Regions from separate parts of the Homo sapiens genome. Here region 1 is linked to region 2. Evidence: fine-mapped expression QTL. Tissue or cell type: whole blood. Region 2 holds a variant in brackets; the other region holds the start of a gene. All regions are shown on one strand. Distances are from middle to middle.

The links. PIP is the estimated chance that this variant, and not a neighbour inherited with it, causes the effect.
Region 1: SLC7A8 starts here. The variant in region 2 is fine-mapped to the expression of SLC7A8 in whole blood (TOPMed, PIP 0.97).

Annotation. Positions count from the first base shown.
Region 1 is chr14:23,182,032-23,184,654 of GRCh38, forward strand. SLC7A8 (solute carrier family 7 member 8) reads right to left here and starts at 1,629. Exons shown (of 11, transcript NM_012244.4): 1 at 733-1,629. The coding sequence starts at 883.
Region 2 is chr14:23,161,834-23,164,436 of GRCh38, forward strand. The region is part of intron 3 of SLC7A8 (solute carrier family 7 member 8); the gene reads right to left. Among named protein-coding and RNA genes, the nearest start is that of SLC7A8, 21 kb to the right of the region's middle. The variant A/G (reference allele first, on the strand shown) is at 1,464.

The DNA.
Region 1 (2,623 bases), 20 kb after region 2:
TTCTACACATTCTAGTTACTCCTGATTCCCTCTGAGAGCTTCACCGGGTCCTCCGTGGCTGTTAAGAAACAGGTGGACCCCACCAGGCAACTGGAGAAACTGCAAACTCTCCACTTACCGAGAGGCACAATCTGTCCCCTCTTTTCTTCCATAACTTCCCCATCTGTGAAATGGGAATAACAGCCCTGTCACAGCTACTTCACACAGTAAAAGTGCTGCATAAGGTGGAAAACGCTAAAATAAAAAGGCAGGGCATTGCTCTTGCTATTTTTAATACCTATCCCATAGTTTCATTTAACATAAAACTGCAAAATAGCTACCAAATATACCTTAAAAGCCCATCCCCAGCCTGGGAATAATAGCTGCATACAAACTTGTTCAGGTCCCTCAGTCCCTCCTTAAACCTATTGAACTAGAACCTCCAAGTGTCGAGACCAGGACCTGTATTTTTAAGGAGTTCCCAGGCAATGCTAATCATCAGCCGGGTTTCTGACCACGATTTGCTCCATTCTATGAACACTGGGCAGAATCTTTGCCTGGTTTGGAGGAAGAGATGTATGATGTATTTCCTATGCCTCTCAAACTTGACCAGTGGAGGTGAGTTACAGCTCAGGTGACTGACAATCCTTTTCTAAGGAATAGGAAGAACAATAATGCTTTCGAAGGGTTAAGATCTCACAGGAGGACCACCAGAGGGGAGAGGAGGGGTCCGCGGGAAGGAATGGAACTCACCTACGATGATACCACAGGCACTGACCAATCCGATCTCTTTCTTCAGGGCTACTCCGCCCCCTCCGGAACCAGCCTCGGGGCTGGCGTCCGACTCGCCCCCACCTGGGTGTTTCTTTTCGGTGTTGTTTCGGTGCCTGGCTCCTTCTTCCATCCTTCTCAGTAGGATTGCAACCTCAAAAGCTGCCTCCCTTTCTAAATGCGTATTCGTGTAAATATATTGGGAGAGAGCTTTGAATTAGAACGTCCTTTTCCGAAATAGGAACCACTGCTACTCTCTAAAAAAGGCAAGCAGATAAAAGAGAACACGAAAAATATTCCTACTCCGCATTCACACTTTCTGGTCACTCGCGTTTACAAACAAGAAAAGTGTTGCTAAAAAAAAAAAAAAAAAAAAAGGCCAGGGGAGACATACATTTAAATATAAAAATAGAACTGTGCCAGCGACTCCGGCTGGAATTCTGCTGAAAGGGATGTGTCTTCAGAAACCAGGATGGTTCTGCTCTGTGCACCAGGCAGTGGCTTATTCAGAAAGTGAGCCTGGATTTCCCTTCACCTCTCCCCCTAATAAAACAGGAGACTGCCTTTACCTCCCCTTAGTTTTTTCTTTTATGATGAAGACAAAAGTAGTTTTCATTAACGGTAGGAAAAAAGAGCAATCCTCAGGTACTTTCTTCTCTTCTAGAAAAACAAACTGTGAACCTGACGGTGTTGCTCTAGATCTGGTTTCCACCTGCTTTGGGTTTCTTTTCCCTTCCCCGTCTTCTGCTTCCGCCTTTCCCAGGTGTCCTCTTCTTTCTCGCTGGTCTTCGTGCCCTTGTTTTCCTCTTTTCGATCCCCGTTCTACTGCACAGCCGGCCCCATCCCTCTGGTTTCGGGAGAGTGGCTTCTCCACACACTAACGTGCTTCTCTTTAGCGAGGGGTTTTATTCGCCCGCCGAGGCTCCGCCCCTGCCTCCTCTGCTCCCCTCCATCCTCAGTCCCGTCTCCTCCCTCCTCTGCAATTTAAGTATTAGCACAAAGCCCCCAAACAGCACTGAGAAAATGGACTAAGTTATTTCTTTTTGCAATCGTCTCTCGCTTTCTCCATCTTTCTCCTTGCAACCAAGTGGAAGTAAACTCCTTCCACGTCAACTGTTCCGGGAGAGCTCATTAGCTAGTATAATGTTACAGGTCATACAGCATCTGTGAGCTTTATAAATCAGGGAACAGTTGTGCCGATACTTTTAATGCCATCAGAAATAAACTAGCCAATGTATTAAAAAATATTTAGGACTGGATCCTGTATTTGAGAATACAGGAGAGAACGTTGAAAGGACATCATCTTCGAGTTTCCTAAAAATAGGGGGAATCGACGGGTGGGGGAGGGAAATGGAAGGAATTAACAATGGGAAAAAGGTTCTTTTAGCGTAATTGTGAGCTACGAAGAGTACAGAGGAAACAAAATCGCCAGGCGCGGTGGCTCACGCCTGTAATCCCAGCGCTTTGGGAGGCTGACAGGGGAGGATCACGTGAGCCCAGGAGTCTGAGACCAGCCTGTGCAACAGAGCGAGACCCCGTCTACTAAAAATTTTAAAATTAGCCGGGTGCAGTGGTGCAGGCCTGTAGTCTTAGCTACTCAGGAGGCTGAGGCTGGAGGATTGCTTGAGCTCAGGAGGTCAAGGCTGCAGTGAGCTATGATGACGCCACTGCACTCCAGCCTGGGAGGTAGAGCAAGACCCTGTCTCAAAAACAAAACAAAACAAAAAGCCAGAAAAACCACATGCACATACAAAAAGATAAAAAACAAAATCACCAGGTAGCCTTGTTGTTCACAGCTCTTATTTAGGACTGGCTGAAACATGAAAAAAAATGACTCAAACCCTGATCCTGCAACTTCTAATATTTTTGCATT
Region 2 (2,603 bases):
GGAGAATCGCTTGAACCCGGGAGGCGGAGGTTGCAGTGAGCCAAGATGGCGCCACTACACTCCAGCCTGGGTGACAGAGTGAGACTCCATCTAAAAAAAAAAAAAAAAAAAGCATCTACCAAGCCTTCCTGACAGCTTGGTTCTTGTTTTACTGAATACCGTATGAGAGGATTGGATGCTTATCTGGTATGGCCTGCCATAAAATTCAAAAAAAGAAGAGAGGATTTGAGGGGCCTATAGAAGTGGATTAAAAAAAAAAAGTATTCAACAAACCGGAAAACAGAACCTCTGTACACAGACTCAAAGCAGCTGGGAGTGTCAGGTATAAGGAAAGGGAGAGAGGAAGTTTGTTATAGCTAATGCATGTACGTGTGCACCCTGCCGGGCAGAGGGATGGCAGCTCCACATGGCCTTCACAGCTAGGAGGAAAGGGACACTGCAGCGGGACAGGTGTGGAGCTGGTTTCCATTTCCCCTAAAGGAAATAAGGAAGACTACGCTTGGGAATAAGAAGGATTTAAGATTTTTCTGCTTATGAAGGTAGACAAATATTTGAACCCATATTTCAAGGACATTGAAAATTCCTGTCTTTAGAGGACAAGATTGGCTACTGTTAAGTTGGAGATAATTTCCTTGCAGTTCTGCTGAGAAGGCAGAGGCCAAACTTAGATAAGCTTTATTGAATCTTTGACTACAGGAATAGAGGAGGGGGGTCTTGTCATTTTTGTCATCAGCCAGTTTCTAAATTTCTCCTTGGCTTGGTCCTTGCAGTGTCTAGGTGAGGGGAAGGCTGTGGAGAGGACTGTGCAACATGTCATTCTGGAGCAGGGCTACAGGCAGGTGGCGTTCTTATCTCCTAGGAGAGTTTGGACCTTTCTGGTCCGAGGGGACGCCAAAAAGGCTACACTACTTTGGAGGGTCTTTGTGCAAGAGGTCAAACCCTTGGCAGATTTGGGGAATGCAAAGAAAGCCATGGGGTCTGGCTGCCTGGGAACTTCTTCAACCTGTGGCCTGGCTCCTCTCCTAGGGTGCAAACTGAACAGCCTCGGGGGTTCTTGATTTCTAGTAGAAGGGTAAGGGTGGCCTCTTGTCTGAGACACTTTAGCAGCATCAGCAGGAAAAAGGAAGCTGTCTGTGTGCAAAGAAACACCAAAACAGCAGTAGCTAGCACTTCTGTGGCCTTGCCTCCCACCCTCCCATTAGCTGATCTGATGGCAGAAACAGCACTCTTCCTGCATTCCCACGCCCTCGCTCTTCCCCGCTCCCCATCTCAACTCTGGATCCAGCTAGGATGCAAGGATAAAGTGGCCCCAGCATCTTGCCCACCCCCAGTGACTGATATGACTGGGGTGCTGGGTGTCTAACACTGTGCTGAGGGTGTCCCCTTCCTTCTCTCTTGCAGTCCTTGTGACCACGACCTCTTGAGGCAGCTAGGATTACACTCCCCATCTCACAGTAGGGTGG[A/G]CGAGTGATTTTGCCCAGCACTCACCACTGCAGTTAGAAATGGTGGACTGGAGATGCAGGCGCAGGCAGCCTGGTTTTGGAGCCTGCATTCCTCTGCCTCCAGATCTGTGAGCAGGCCTGATCAAACACAAGGAATACACCCCCAAACAAATGTCTTGGCCCCATATTGCAAATGGCCTGGGTGGTGGAGGTCTGTCCCAGGGTTGACCAGCACTGCCAAAGAGGGCTCACTTGCCAAGGAGACCGCCTCTTGGGTCCCAGCTGCCTGCCCTGTAAGAGGCTACTGAGGTGGGTGAGTGATCTCTTCCTCCCCCATCCCGTAACAGGACAGAAGGAAAAGTGTCAGGACCTGGGAAAGCATATGGCCAGGATGATCACTGCCCTCAGCTAAGTGTATGTGTGTTAGAAGCTATGGGAAGGCAGGGACCCAGTGAACCCTAGAGGTGGAGCCCCTGAAACATATCTAAGTATTTACTTTAGAAATTAGTTTTTGATTAAAGATGTAAAATACCCCAATCCATTGAGATGACTAATATCAGAGATAAAGCTTTGAGACTTCCTAGAAATACGGCTCTGCAGAACTTCTCTAGGAAGCCTCTCTAACCTATTCCAGCCCACAGAGATCTTTTCCCCTTCTCTGAATTTTATTGTTATTGTTGTTTTTAATTTCTTTTTTTTTTTTAGAGACAGGATCTCACTATGTTGCCCAGGCTGGAGTGCAGTGGCTATTCATAGGTGTAATCATAGCTCACTGTGGCCCAGAACTCCCAGGGTCAATCGACCCTCCTACCTCAGCCTCCCAGGTAGCTGGAACTACAGGTGTACACCACCATGCCTAGCTCCCTTCTCTGAATTTTTACTGCAATTGAATCCTAACCACAGTATCTGTCTATATGGCTTTTCTCCTAGTTAGAAAACTCATCAAGGGCAGGGATCATGGACAAACCCTTCTCCAAGAGAGTTAAAAGAGTGTGACTTGACAAGTTGAGGTAGAAGTAGATGTGGACCTACTGCCAAGAAGCCAGAGTAATCTTCCTAGGAGCAGCTGGGAGTAGCCAGCACAGTGCAGTGCACTGGACAGACAAGAAATCAGGAGCCCTTGCACTCCACGTGGCCTGCCTCCCTGGGCAAGTCATTTGC